Regions from separate parts of the Homo sapiens genome. Here region 2 is reported to be linked to region 1. The links are microRNA targets in miRTarBase. Many come from high-throughput screens and were not tested one by one. Region 1 holds a microRNA gene; the other region holds the end of a gene's coding sequence.

Region 1 (8,328 bases):
CAGATTAAAGAGGCAGTGTCAGCATATGTACCCAACTCATATGTGACAAAGAGGGAAGAGAGGGCTCAGTCTCCTACTCCTCTTTCTCTCACACTTCACATGCAATGTATCAGTAAACTCAACTGGCTGTAACTTTAAAATATAACCACTTTTTACTACCTTCACCACGATCACCCTGATGTAGGCCTCCATCCATCTCTCAACTGAATTATTTCAATGGCCTCCTAACTGGTCTCCCAGTTTCTGCACTTTCTCCTCCTATTTGCCATACAACAGTCAGAACCATACTTGTGAAGCAAAGACACAGAAAACTGTAATCCTGATTTTGAATCAGAAGTATAATGGAATCATGATGTATTTATCTAGAAACAAGAAAACACAAAAACAAAACATTTTTCTGTTCTGATCATTGTAGAAGCCTAAATACAATGACCAATCCAGAGGCAAATATGGTCTTTAAATATCATGTCTGATTAAAAGAAACCAGGGCTTCTTGAAGACATGGCAGATTCCAGGCCTGGGGAAGGTATCTGCGATGAGCTTTGTACATTTTTTTCATCTCTGAAAGCGGAGAAGCTATCAGATAACTACGGAGGCATGTCAAAAGGACTGAGGAACCAATTTGAAGAAGCTCCTACTGGCTAAAGATGGGGCACTGGAGCTTCACTGAAGGCAAGAACTGCAATGGATTAAAAGTCCAAATATATTTAAATCTATGAGTTTATTATAATAGTTTTTTTAAAAAATCCTCTTTAGAGTAAGCTAGTGAACCAACTCATTATTCTGAGTACTGATAAATAAAGAGAACCAAACATTTATCCTATCTTGCCTATAAAGACGGCAACACTGGGTGATCAAATAGCAGATGAAGGGAAGTTTTTCTTTATAGAAGTATTCCAGCTAATAAATCAAGAGAATAATGGGATTAGAATATCATCATTTTGCAACCCCTAATGAAATAACGGCTCTAAGAATTGAGCATCGGTGGCAACTAACATCACAGAAAGATGATCATCAGTTATTTTGTGCCTCTTAATGGAAGTAGTTCTGCTCCCCCTTCCTCAAAATTAAGCCTGAATTTGATCAGGCTTCCAGATGCAACTATCAGTTTACAGGAAATACAAACAAGGAGAAGGAACATGTAAACTACATCACAGGGATGTGATCACAAAAATCCAGACTATGCAAAACTGTATAGGATGAATGGCCCACTTTCTTCCAACAAATAAATTATAAGGAAAGAAAAAATATAGATGGAAGGGAAAGATATAATTCAAAGGGACTTAAGATACATATCAACCAAATGCAATGCATGGACCTTATCTGGATCCTAATTTATGATATTTCTGAGACAAGTGGAAATGGGAACAACAGATATGTGATGATATTAAAAAATTGTTGGCAATTTTTTTTCTTTTTGAGATGAAGCCTCGCTCTTGTCACCCAGGCTGGAGCGCAGTGGCACGATCTTGGCTCACTGCAACCTCCGCCTCCCGGGTTCAAGCGATTCTCCTGCCTCAGCCTCCCGAGTAGCTGGGATTACAGGCACCTGCCACCAGGCCTGACTAATTTTTGTATTTTTAGTAGAGACGGGGTTTCACCATGTTGGCCAGGCTGGTCTTGAATTCCTAACCTCAGGTGATCTGCCTACCTTAGCCTCCCACAAAGTGCTGAGATTACAGGCATGAGCCCCTGTGCCTGGATGGTAATTATTTTTAAGTGTGATAATGGTATGATTTTTTTTTTAAAAGCGGCCTTAGATTTTAGAGATACATAGTAATTATCAGCTTTCCCTTTTTCCATTGTAACTTACTACTTCCCAGCCCTATGCTTCTGCCACAATGGCTCTTTGTTGTTCCTAGAACACAGTAGGCCTTTCCTGACTACCCTATTTGATATCGAAACTTCTCCACCACCATCTATGCTGTAACTACCCCCACCCACTCCTTGTCCCCTTTTCCTGCCTTATTATTCTCCAGAGCACTTATCAACAATTGGCACACTATCTATTACTTACTTATTTTGTTCACTACCTGCCTCCCCTCACTAGGGCAGGGATTCTTGTCTTTTGGTCACTGGTGTATCCCTGGTGCATAGGGGAGTACCCAACACACAGTAGCTGCTCGATAAATATTTGCTGAATGAATGAGTGGCTCACCAAATGAATCGGCTGCAAATCCTGGGTCTGGGGAGATAACAGAGAAAACTCACAATCTGACTCATATCTACATGAGTGTCTAAGAAGACAGATCTTCACACACCCTCTTGAGCAAACAAGTGTGCATATGGAAAGGCATGGCACAGTGAGTGGATTCTACTTTCTGAACCCAAAATGTGTGTGCATATTACATCTTTGCATATGGTTATGATATAGACACAATTTTCCTCACAAACTGGGTTTGTGAGAATTAGCTAGAAGACTCCCTTTTCATCATGCCCCATGTACAGGAGTCCTGAGAAGGTTCTCTCTCCTCCTCTAGGTGCCGCTAAGACAGAACCAGGTCAAAAGACCCCCCTTCCTTCTCTAGGCTGTGCCTATCCCTGAGTATGAGGGGCTGCACCATGTGCAAGAGAAAGCTAAGAGAAGTCTCCCTCTCCTGCAGGATCCATGTAAGACTGAGATGGGAGAAAGGACATGGCTGAGAGTCATTCTCCTTCCCACCACATGGGTGTGTGTTTTTCTTTTGGTGAAGGAGTGCGTATGTGTATATACACATGCACAAGAGAGCAAGGAAAGCTGAGGCTCGCCATCCTGCAAACCCTGCATGTGGGAGGGGTTTTCAGAAAGCTCACCCTCCACCATGCAAGGGATGTGAGAGAGGGAGCAGGGAAGGGCTTGCTCTCTTGGCACGACATATGGGTATGCTCTAGGAGGCAAGAGGCACTGGCCTGGGGGGTGCAAGTGGGCAGCAAGATAGCCACAGGAGTGCTGATGGGTAAACTAGGAGCAGTGGCCATGGAAGCAGGACAGTCATCCAGATGGGATGGCTGCTAACAGTGTACCCCACATACAGAGCACGTAAGAGAGGGTCTACCTCCCTTTGGTGTACCTGTCCATGTGCTCATGCCTATGCACTGGAGAGGGAAGAGAAGGCTCGCTCTTCTGCAAGCCTTGGGTGTGGGAGGGTAATTAAGATGCCAACGGTCCTACACTCAAGGCATGGAGGAGAGAAAGCAAGTCGGGAGGTCTGCTCTCCTGTATACTGTGTGCATGCGTATCCCAGATGCCTTGGACTTCTATGACTGTGCCCCAGACATGCTGTAATGAGAAGGTGTGCTTGTGTACATTCACATATGTACCTTCAGAAATGTTCACTATCTACAACATATTTGTTTTCCTTCCTTCTTTCTTTTCCTTTATTTTTATTCCTAACACCAGTATAGTATTTACATTTGCAGAGCACTGTTTTAAGTGCTTTTCACACATAGCTCATTTATTCTCATAAAATATCCATGAGGTGATCATTATCCCTATTTTACAGATGAAATAACACACATACGAGAACAGATGGTAAGAAAGCTTAGAATCTGGCATGCAGGTCATTAGAAAGAGGACTCAAAAAAGGAGGCTCAAGCTCTCAGCCACCAACCACTTTGTGTCCACACACACACCACACACACACACACACACACACACACACACACACAGAGAGAGAGAGAGAGAGACAGAGACAGAGACAGAGACAGAGAGACAGACAGACAGACAGACGCAAGAGAACTTGCACTTGTCAGCCCAGGGAAAAGCTGGATTAGTGTGGAAATAATAGAGGAAGTGAGAAGTATGAGAAGTGGCTGTGTGGTCAGATTAGACATGTATTTTGAAAGTAGAGCCAACAAGATTTGACAGCAGTTTGTATTTGGAGAATGGAGGGGAAAAAGTGTCAAAGATGAATCCAAAACCTTTAGCTTATTAAAATTCTCCATATCCTTGGCATATGCAATTGGGAAATGCTGTTTGCTGAGTTGGAGAACACAGAGGGAGGAGTAGGGCTTTTTGAGAGGGGGAGGAAAACCAGGACCTCAGCTTTGGATGTGTTAAAGTTTTGAGATACTTATTAGACATTCGGGGCAGATGTCCAGTACATAGTTGGACATAGGCATCTGGAATTCAGGAGAGAAGTCCAGGCTGGAAATACAAACACAGAAATCATCCACATAAAATGGTACTTAGAGTTGCAAGACAAGATGAGAACAGCTGAGGACTAATGAGAAGTTAAAAAAAAAAAAAGAAGTCTGAAGACTAAGCCCTATATCTCTTTAATACTTAGAATTCAGGAAGAGGAGGAGAAACCATCAAGAGACTGAGAAAGAGAGGCTTGTGAGGTAAGAAGACAACCTCATGAGTGTGGAATCCTGGAAAGCAGGTAGAGTCTCAAGGCAGAGGGAGTGATCAACTGTGTGTTGATCTGTCAAGTAAGATGACAACATTGCCCAGTAAATTGGGAAATGTGAAGGACACTGGGGACCTTGACCAGGGTCATTTAAGTGCTGCAGGTTACAGTTTTACATGGAGGGTTTTCAAGAGTAAATGGGACTAACATTTAAGTCTTTAATCCATCTTGAATTAATTTTTGTATAAGGTGTAAGGAAGGGATCCAAGGACAGAAAACCAAACACCACATGTTCTCACTCATAGGTGGGAATTGAACAATGAGAACACTTGGACACAGGAAGGGGAACATCACACATCGGGGCCTGTCATGGGGTGGGGGGAGGGGGGAGGGATAGCATTAGGAGATATACCTAATGTAAATGACAAGTTAACGGGTGCAGCACACCAACATGGCACATGTATGCATATGTAACAAACCTGCATGTTGTGCACATGTACCCTAGAACTTAAAGTATACATTTAAAAAAAAGAGTAAATGGGAGAAATAGAAGTAGAGATGGAGTACAATCAGCTCCTTCAAAAAAATTTTTTTTTTTTCTGTAAAGAGGAACAGAGAAATGAGTAGAAACTGGAGGAGCTTTTTGGGTAGAGAAGGTAGTGCTTTTTAATTTTTAAAATTATTTTTAGACAGGATATGTGGCAGCACATCTAGATATTGGTACAAACACTCCAGTATACAAAGAACAGTTGATGATGCAGTAAGGAGAGGGGGATCAATTGCAGGAGCACTGTCACTGAATAGGTGACAGGGGTTGAAATCTAGTATACAAGTGGAGGAACTGGTCCTGGCTACATGTGCCAGTAATTCATCTACCATAATGGGGAGGAGCTGACACTTAGGGACATGTGCAGGTAATGGAGGAGAGGTCAGAGGAACTTCAGAGGGTCCCTTCTGATGGCTTCCATTTTCTCAAGGAAGAAGAAAGCAAAGTCAGCAGCTGAGAGTGAGGAGGAAGGAAGGGAGGTGACACTGCAGATTTGAGGAAAGGAAAGAATTATGAAACAGTCATCCAAGGCAGTACTTCCCAAACATTTTCAAATAATGGGACCAAGCAGCTTAGGTGTGAGTTTTCTTCTATGGAGAATCAGTTGCTCCAGGCAAAGCATATGGATTAAGGAAGTTTATTACATGTTAATCCCAATACATGCGTCGCCTCCTTCAGTGCTTATTACAAACCTATATGGTTGGCACAATTAGTTATCTCATTTTCATGTTGTGGAAATTGAGACACAAGATAAGTCACTTGTCTAGGATCACAAAGCTCATTACAGATCACGCCAGGATTCTACCACAGGTAATCTGACTACCAAGACAGTGGGCCTAACCACTGAACCCTAAAGCTGTGTGTACCCACATGTGTATGAGAACTGAAAATGATAAGGACCCACTTTCTGGCACATCCTTGGCACACACATGTGAGATGAGGGAGGAAAAGGAAGAGAGAAAGAGCAAGGATGGAGAATAAGGAGGCTCAAGCTCCTATCATAAATGTGTGTGGGGGCATGCACAGAAAAGGGGTAATAAGGTGGCTGACACAGTGGTTCACACGCCACTGTGGCCCAGCCAGTGTGTGCATTGGGAGGTTGTAATAACCTCCCAATTGGGAGGTCAGTTTTATTTTAGGTTAAGCCATGCGTGGGGTAGGAGAGTGGCAGCAATAGAAGGCTCACAGTCCTGCGATGCTGGATGCAATGGGGCAACTCAGGTGTCTCCCTTACATGCATATCATGAGTGTATGCACATGAGAGAAAGAAAGAGAAAAGCAGGATTAGAGAGAGAGGCTGCAAGCAGGAGGCGGATGGGGAAACCCACAGTCCAACAGGTTTGGGGAAGCATATTTAAAATAAAAAGCTCACTGTAGTTCTGTGTGGTCAAGGTGGGATGGGATAGCTTGAGAGGCTTGCACCCCTGCATGGGGCAGGAGAGCTGGGGGAGTGGAGAGCAGAGACAGGGCAGATATAGGAAGAATGCTCACTGATGAATCCTAGCAAATTTTTAAAATATCATAAATTTCATACTATTTTTACAATGTAAATAACTGTCATTCAAACAATGCTCCACAACCTTTAAAACAAGTAAAAAAAGGGGCTTTTAATGTACAGACTAAGAAAGCAAATGTATTCGTTGTAGCACAATTCTCATATTCTATTCCGCAGGTATCAGCTGCTTGACAACACCAACTATAGTGAAAAGAGCCAAATATGTGTTCACACTGACACTTTTTCTTTAGTCTTTAAACTTGCTGGCCAACAGAGTATAGCTTAGAAACTGCCCACCATCCTTAATGGATCAACTGCCATTTCTGAACTTATTTTTCCCCTCAGCTAAAAGGGGCAGATTATTTTTTTTATTCCTCAACACATCTACCATACAAAGCAAACACTAACAGGCCGAAGGATTCATCTCCCTCGTGGTGTACATGTGTGTACACATGTGAAGGCACATGTGCCTGTGCCAGAGCCAGTTTTTTTAGGCCCACTATCCTTCAAATACTTCAACTCAGCAAGTTAAAAAAAAAAAAAAAAAGCAAAGTCCACTCTCCAATAATGCATGCTTGTGGGAAGAGCACTAAGAAGGCATGCTGGGTTTAAGAGGCAGGGCACAGCTCAGAAAGCTTGCACATCTGTAAACCTCATGTGTGGGAGGGAACTGAGACAGCTCACACCCCAATGTGTGAGGCATGTGAGACAAACAGGTAAGGAGTCACCTCCTCTCTCCCTCACAGACAGAGGATGTACACAGACGTAGGTCTAAGGAGGCGTGGGGTGATCAGGAGCCTCATCATCTTGTACTCCTGTGTGCATCATCTGTGTCGGGGGTGGGGAGGGTGTCCCATAATAATGCTCACTCTTGCCAACAAGGCCTGTAAGAAGGGCACTAAACAATCTCGACTCTGGATGCTGGGTGAAAAAAAGCAAGGGGGCACATAGCCTATGGCGGGGGGGTGGCACTAGAAAATTCACTCTCCTGTAAGTTGTGTATATAAGAGTGGAATTAAAAAACACACACACTACCATTCAAGGCAAATGGGAGGGTGAACACATCAGATGTCTCAGACTGTGTGTGTGTGTGTAGAAGACTCAAGCCAGCAAACCCTTTGCAGTGTCATGCATGGGTGAAGGAGAGAAATAACAAGAAGGCAAGATGGCTTGCTCTCCCACAGACTCCACAAATAGGAATGGGATCAGGAAAGCTCTCTCTCCTACAGTCAAGACATATAGACGAGTGGTGGAGTCAGCAGGTTCTTCTTTCTGGCACTCTGAGTGTGAGAGGGAAGGAGGGAGGGAGGGAAGTAGAGAAGGCACATTAAGGTTCATTTGCCTGCAAACTTAAAATGTGGGAGGGGGATTGTGAAAATCCACACTCTGACACTTTGGGCCCGAAACGTACCAAGCAGGTCAGAAAGCAGGCGTGCTGCAGGCCTGAGGTAGAAGGCTTGTTTATCTGCACATTTTGTGTGGATCTGCTCAAAAGGAGGCTCACTTTGCAGCACTACGTCTATGTGGGTGCCCACAAAATGGCAGGAGCAGAGGGGGTGGTGAGAGAGTAAGTGAGAAGGGTCCAGTGACCGTACCCCATTAAGTATATATTCCTGTGCATGTATGAGCAGGAATATGCAAACAGGAAATGGGGCTCAGGCTGCCATACACCTTCTACACCTGTGTCGTTTGAGCAGTACAGTATAGTCTCAGCTTTGGAATGCCTGGTTCTGCCATTAACAGCTGTGCCTAATCTCCCTATGCCTGCATTTCATCATCTGTAAAATGGGGAGGGCGGGAGTCCCTGATTCTTAGGGTTGTTGCAAGGATTAACCAGGACACTATGACCAGTGCTGAGCTCAGTGTCTGGACACTGCCAGTGCCAAATGTTAACTATCTTTGTTAGCATCAGCAACAGGAAAATGGGCCTCTCTAGGGAAATATCACTCAAAGAT
Region 2 (7,651 bases), not on the chromosome of region 1:
CAAACGCTACCTGAGGGCATTGTTCGTGCCTAAGATCTGTCACAGTTGGGACAGTGTTTAGCTTAAATATTACTGCATACACTCTAAGACAGACAGCTCAACAAGTAAAGAGATTCACCTTTTAGACGGAGTTGGTCAATTTCTTGAGCAAGCTGCCAGAATCTTAAAACAGGACCATGTGGATGCTACAAAACAATTTTCCAGTAAAACTGCTTGTATAAGCAAGTTCTCAAAACAAAGTATTCATAGTTGTCCTAAAATTTTAGTTCAAGTATCATTCACACAGGGAATCTGAATCATTTATGAAAGATGGGACTTGTATGGAAGTGTACACAGAGGGTTTCTTAACCATTCAAATCAATTTTCTAACTTTCAAATATGGTAAATATCATTACAAAGCTGTAGAAAGAAAATATTTCTGTGAATTAAAGGTATTTAAATCCAGATATTGTCATTTTAAAATCTTGTATCATATAAATAATATACTAAGCAATAAAATGGAATTTTTCAATAAAATAGATTTTTGTATACAAAGTATACTAACTTGCATATGTAATAAGTTAAATGTAGGTTTAAAAATTAACCTATTGACAGCACTGATCATCAATTTTTCTTCCTTCACAGTTACTCATTGCTATTTTGAACCAACTAGGGGTAAGGCTCTATTTTTATGCTATAATAAACTACACATTTACTTAATAGACTAAAGATAACATCTTACTAAATTTTTTTTTGTTGTTTTTTTTTTTAACTTTTGGAACTTCTCTGGGGTAAGATTTTATTTCCATGACTAAATTGATAAAGGTAAGTTATATTCAATGCCACGAAAGGTAAGAGAAACTCTTTGTAACTATAAAAATATGAGAGTCAACCTCAACTGATCTACCAAACTAGAACTCATAAGTTATAAACTCATTTCCTCCAAAATCTTTACATCAAAATTTTTGCCAGTCTAAAAAGGTATTTTTTAATAATGTCCTTGATATTTCACAAAATTTAAATTTACAGGCATATATGCAATATGAAATTTCAAACAACAAAGTTTGCTTCAGGCTTTTTTTTTTTTTTTTTTGAGGAGTCTTGCTCTGTCACCCAGGCTGGAGTGCAGTGGCGTGATCTCGGCTCACTGCAACCTCTGCCCCCCCAGGCTCAAGCGATTCTCCTGCCTCAGCCTTCCTAGTAGCTGGTATTACAAGCATGTGCCACCACACCTGGCTAATTTTTACATTTTTAGTAGAGACGGGGTTTCACCACATTAGCCAGGCTGGTCTCAAACTCCTGACCTCAAGAGATCCACCCGCTTCAGCCTCCCTAAGTGCTGGGATTACAGGCGTGAGCCACTGTGCCCAGGCTTTCAGGCTTATTTTTGTCTTATAGGCAATTCATAGTAAATAATGAGAAAAGCCTACTGTAAAACTGCCACACCTAGAAATGGACTGATCTCAAGGCAAGGTAACACATCTTAACAAAAAGCATTAACTTGCTGGATACAAAGGCTACAAACTTTGACTTCTACTTTGACTTTCACTGAAGTTTGCTTTCATGTAAAATACATACCAAAAAAAAGAAAGAAAGAAAGAAAGAAAGAAAGAAAAACGTGGAGACCAAAAAGGTATATATCCCTTTTGTTGTTCTAATATTTTTAAGAAACAGGATCTTGCTATGTTGTCCTGGCTGGACTACAGAGGCTATTCACGGGCCCAATCATAGTGTATGTACTACAGCCTTGGAGAAAGAAACTGGATTTCCACCCAACTGCTTCTCTCCTAACAAGTTACATTGCCCTGAAGTGCTTATTTAGTACCTTTTACCATTTCAAATACTTAGACTATCTGAGGCCAAGTGGGAGAGATTAAGCTCTATGCTGTAAACAGTTAAGGATTCAATTTATCAGCATTTAACAGTTCCACATTATTTTCCACCTCCAACATACATGATTATACCAATATTAACACATCAGCAATAAAATAACCATAAAATGGGAGGCATGGGTGAAGAAGGAATTGTGGTGAAAATATCTTCATATAAATTATAACTATAATCTGTATTATCTATTTTGACAGAAATAATTCTCCCACTACTATGCCAGAAGTTACGTATGGTTAGTAAAATCTCCAAATTCTTTCATGCATTTATATCCTTTTCAATATTTTTATCATGAGTTTAATTGCCTCTGATTGTGTCCACAACGGTAAATTAATAATATGATGAAAATAGGTGTAAACAAGACCAATTAATTACAAATGCTTTCTTCAAAGGATGTATTTTAAAGTCAGTTTATTAAAACTCCAGAAATATTTTAGAAAATAACCACCACCAGAAGTCCTAAGCATAAGAAAACATACTGTTAAATAAGAATAGCCTCTCGAAGTGCTCAGAATTTTCAAGTTCCCCCTTTAGCCACCAAATATTTAAAGTAGTTATGATCCTAAGGAAACTTTGCATATCCTTCTATTTGAGTTTGAAATGCTTTCAAAAGCTCAAGAACACCTGCTGACAAAACAAACACTGACTGTGGCCCTTTATCCTTAGGTTATCATCAAATAAACTATCTTTGGGCCAAAATTACACAAACAACTTCAACAATGCTAGCCAAATCAGGTGTGGCCCTTAAATTTCAACTCACAAATCATAACTGCAATACTATGAATAACATGAGTACTACTTATGTTACACATAATCTTCCAAGCTGCATACTTAAATAATGTATCATAAAAGACTCTTAACCTTAGTAGGGAATACAACAGACAGAATAGCTTTGCAACCCAGTCAGACCATGATTCAAATCCCAACTCTACTAGCAAATAAAACTGCGGGCAACCTTTCTAAATATCAATGTATTCATTTGTGAAATGGGAATACTACTACCTAACAGGATGTGGATAGAATTAAGAAATATAATAGATACTCAGTAAATGGCAAATATTATTACTTATTTTACTAAATGTCTCTAAAATAAAAAACATTCATTTTACATAAGACATAAGGAAAATAAGTATGAAGGGAATATTACCTAGTGATATAGCAGATAGATCTTCCTCTAGGAATATCTGAAACTAACATTTTGTTTTTTCCCTATTATAGATGGTGCTGGATATTTACAGTTATCAGAAGAGTATCTACTTCTATCTTAACTATAGTTGATGGTAGTTTTATAATTTTGCATACTTTGTGCATGTTCCAGTGAAAACTCCAAAAAACCATAAAGAATGTATCTAGACCATGGGCTTTAGTCATACTTTAAATAAACCTTTAATATAACCAAATGTCTTTATTAATGGCAGTTCAAATGTATCAAAACTATTAAACAGGCTGGGCATGGTGGCTCACACCTGTAATCCCAACACTTTGGGAGGCTGGGGTGGGAGGATCTCTTGAGCCCAGGAGTCCAAGACCAGCCTGGGCAACATAGGGAAATTCCAGTCTCCACAAAAAAAAAATAAAAAAATTAGCTGGGTGTGGTGGTGCACACATGTGGTCCCAACTAATTAGGAGGCTGAGGTGGGAGGATTGCTTGAGCCCAGGAGGTTGAGGCTGCAGTGAGCCATAAGAGCACCATTGCACTCCAGTGGTGCTATCACGGGCAACAGAATGAGACCCTGTCTCAAAATACTATGACACACAAGTAAAGGCCAAAATTTTCAGAAAATTGCTCAAACTGTTAAAAGAGCTTTTGTAAACAAGTAGCTTCAATTTTGGAGAACTCCATTCAGTGATAGGAAGAAGCAATTTCTTCCTGCCAAATGGTGAAAGTAGAAGCCAACTCTTCCATGCAGGAAGGCCATCTAACCTCTTGAGCAGGTCATCCTCATCAAGTATCAATCCCTTATTACTCACCGTAGGGACCAGGATTTTATGGATTTTTAGAAGTTAATACATACATAAGCCCTATTTATAACTACTCCAGAAGGGTTCAAGGTATCCTGAAATCAAACATTCTAATGCTTTTCAGGAAAATCTACAGTCGTAACTAAGGGGAAAAAAGCCTCCTGTCAGTTCAATTCAGGTTTACCACCAAAATTTCTGACATCAAATAAACGAAACAAAAAACAGAACAACACTTTGTTTTACCTTAACCGTAATTCTGCTCTCTAGCTACAGAAGCCTAATCTTTTTCAAACATCTGAAGGAAAGAAAACAATAATGTCTGTCTCCCCTAAAGCTTTTCCTGAGATGCTCCAGCTATAGCCCAACCCTACTTAGGTGGATAGGAGTTCCTATCACAGGGCTTTCCAACAGAGATCCTTAGCCAGAATGAGATAAACATGTCCACTAAGACAAGGCAGTACTACTTTTCTTTCCTTTTCCTTGCTTCCAAAAACCCCCAAAGCACCAACCCCCTCCTTTCCTCTGGGATTTATAACATTAACCATGCTTTTCTCAAAAATCTATTTCAATCTTTAACATTTCTTTCCTAACAAAAAAACACTAACTCACAGAGACCTCCACCTCTGTTCCTGTTTTTATAGAACCAAAATAATTACTTAATAATTATATATTGATCACATATTAAGATATTTTGGATATAATGGATTAAATAATTACAAACCATTTTACTTGTTTCTTTTTATTTTTAATGTGACTACCAAGAAGTTTAAAATTCACACATGGCTAACATTTTCCTTTGTGTTTATTTTGTTGTTAAGTACAGGGGTACATGTGCAGGTTTGTTACATAGGTAAACTTGTGTCATGAGGGTTTGTTGTACAGATAATTTCATCACCAAGGTATTAAGCCTAGTACTCATTAGTTATTTTTCCTGATCCTCTCCCTCCTCCCACCCTCCAATAGACCCCAGAATGTGTTGTTCCCATGTCCATGTGTTCTCACCATTTAGCTCTCACTTATAAGAGAACATGCAGTGTTTGGTTTTCTGTTCTTGCATTAGTTTGCTAAGGATAATGGCCTCCAGCTCCACCCATGTCTTTTCAGAGGACATGATCTTATTCTTTTTTACGGCTGCATAGTATTCCATGGTGTACATATACCACATTGTCTTTATCCAGTCTATCACTGATGAACATTTAGGTTGATTTCATGTCTTCGCTATTGTGAATAGTGCAGCAATGAACATACACGTGAGTATGTGTTTATAATAGAACAATTTATATTCCTTCGGGTATATACCTAGTAATGGGATTACTGGGTCAAATATCTTTAAATATTTGAGGACTCTCTACACTCTCTTCCACAATGGTTGGACCAATTTACACTCCCACTAACAGCGTATAAGCATTCCTTTTTCTCTACAACCTCACTAGCATCTGTAATTTTTTGTCCTGATTTCAATTCTTTTCTGAACATCCATTTTTAACTAATTTACAACATATAGTAGTTTCACTAGAGTGAAATGAACATACTGATTTAAATTACTAACTTCCTGGACTTTTTTTAATTCAGAATTTTTGAAAATGAGAGTATCAGCTCTTGTTCACTGATTTTGATCTCTATTGACTAGTGGCTGAAATTTCCTCTTAAAACTAATGCTTCTAAAGTCAAGAAAACATAGTTTCCATTTTCAAAATTAGCTTCAACAAGATCATGTGAAGCAAAATGTGAAGGAAATAATTTAAAGAAAAATCAGATGAAACATTAAACTATACATCCAGTGGCGGTACTCTGCCTAAAGGAGTTTGATGTGGCAGGAACATCCTTCAGGCCTCAGAAGATGGGGAGCGGGAGGGAAGGCATTGACAAACAAGAACTAGATGAAACAGAAGTTATAGCTGATCAAGAATTTATCTTTATTCTGATTATGATTCTTCAAAGAGCATTAGTTGTTTAAATTTAATTTAAGCCATGCTTAAATCGAATACATACAAAATATGATTACTTATATTCCTTTTGACCAAAGAGCTGAAAATTTTGTGTTCCAGTTCATCTTACTCATGTTATTCTGATGCGAAACACTCTAAATGCAAATTGTTTTGAAAGTAAATAGGCCAAGTGGCCTACCCTGCCCTTTTTATAGTATAAATTCTGTGATACTGCCTTCTTTTCAGTATATGCTCCTCTGTGGGCCTTTGGCTTACACGGAGACCATCAGCTACAACGCATGGCAGTCAGCTTCAGAGTCCTCGCTCCAGTGTGCATCTCGTTTCTCAGCCACAAGTTTGATGAATTGAGAGTGACTGGCATAAAGCTTCAGTTTATCATTGATGTCCACCCATTTCACTTTTCCAGCATCATCTCCAGCTTCTAGCATAAGATTATCCATTATCTCACCTGGTTGCCAAAGAAAAACCATCACCAAGAAAAACTCATTTCTGTTTTAGCATATCTATGTCGTCAAGTATTCTTATTTAAAATAATCTTATATCATCATTGTACTAGCCGGCCAAGTGAATTAAAAACTAGACCATTCCATCCCTGGTCAGCAGAATGAATAAAAGAAAAAAAACTAGAGTATTCCAAAATGTCCAAATTTTAACCAAGTCCCTAAATTTTAGATAAACACAAAGAGTTTTCTCTAAAAAGATTATCCTTAAAAACGAGATTATATTACATGAATATGAAACCTTACATCAAAATCAGTCCAAGAGGGATGAGAGATTTAAATGTAAAAAAATAAACAAAGCTGAGGCGGGTAGATCACCTGAGGTCAGGAGTTCGAGACCAGCCTGGCCAACATGGTGAAACCCCATCTCTACTAAAAATACAAAAATTAGCCAGGAGTGGTGGCACATGCCTGCAGTCCCAGCTTACTTGGGAGGCTGAGGCAAGAGAATTGTCTGAATCCATGAGGTGGAGGTTGCAGTGAGCCAAGATCACACCACTGCACTCCAGCCTGGCAACAGGGTGAGACTCCACCTCAAAAAAAAAAAAAAAAAATTTAAATTATCAAAAAAATAAAAAATAAGTGCTCCCAATCACTGCTGGGAATATAAATGGAATATTTCTGTAGGAAATTTGGCAATGTTTATCAAGAGCTTTTAAAAAGTAAGTTTTCTTTGACAAGCACTCATTCTGTAAATATCAGAGTGCATCTTGTGTGCCAGACTGTACTAGGCACTGAAGATACAATAAGCAATCCAGTAATTCCTCTTTGAAGAATTTATTCTGATGAAATAGAGACAAGCCTATTAAAGTATTCAAGGCAACATTACTTAAATATTTTATTTTATTTTATTTATTTTTAGATGGAGTCTCGCTGTTGTTGACCAGGCTGAAGTGCAGTGGCACAATCACGGCTCACTGCAACCTCCGCGTCCTGAGTACAAGCGATTCTCCTGCCTCAGCCCCCCGAGTACCTGGGATTACAGGCATCTGCCACCACGCCCAGCTAATTTTTTTGTATTCTTAGTAGAGACCACACTGCCATACCAAAAACTGGAGAGACAGGCAAATACAGAGAATCACAACTGACCAGGGAGAGAAGCCTACCGCTGGAGTCAGCACCTGGTAGGAACACTTAAAGGGTAACTAACTGCTGAAAGCTGACCTTTGGACTAGCTTGAAAGATAAAATCTCCTAGGGGGTCAGCCATACCAGTATGAAGAGGGGGCCTACATTTTAGTGAGCTTTACCTCCAAGAAAGCCACCAGGTGAAGACTGGAGAAAAATCCTCTCTCCTTTCTAACATGGAGAGGGGAAAGGTAACCAATTTCAAATACACCCAGATCACTCTGCCCTCAAGGAAAACTATTTTACC

The links. Region 1 holds the annotated microRNA hsa-miR-532-3p (CCUCCCACACCCAAGGCUUGCA, at 3,105-3,126, opposite strand). A microRNA usually pairs through its seed, bases 2 to 8, with sites in the 3' UTR of a target mRNA and lowers its output. Matches are read on the target gene's strand: a 7mer-m8 pairs with bases 2 to 8, a 7mer-A1 pairs with bases 2 to 7 and ends in A, and an 8mer does both.
Region 2: the mRNA of NUDT9 is a reported target of hsa-miR-532-3p. Seed matches in the 3' UTR shown: 7mer-m8 at 5,213-5,219 and 7mer-m8 at 4,775-4,781.

The regions. Positions count from the first base shown.
Region 1 is chrX:49,998,002-50,006,329 of GRCh38, reverse strand. MIR532 (microRNA 532) reads right to left here and starts at 3,182; the gene lies at 3,092-3,182. The region is part of intron 3 of CLCN5 (chloride voltage-gated channel 5); the gene reads right to left. MIR188 (microRNA 188) reads right to left here and starts at 2,827; the gene lies at 2,742-2,827.
Region 2 is chr4:87,456,417-87,464,067 of GRCh38, reverse strand. NUDT9 (nudix hydrolase 9) reads right to left here. Exons shown (of 8, transcript NM_024047.5): 8 at 4,613-6,225. The coding sequence ends at 6,047. It overlaps SCPPPQ1 (secretory calcium-binding phosphoprotein proline-glutamine rich 1), which reads left to right. Exons shown (of 10, transcript NM_001405228.1): 7 at 625-654; 8 at 776-804; 9 at 2,064-2,101; 10 at 3,085-3,266. The coding sequence ends at 790. Among named protein-coding and RNA genes, the nearest start is that of SCPPPQ1, 11 kb to the left of the region's middle.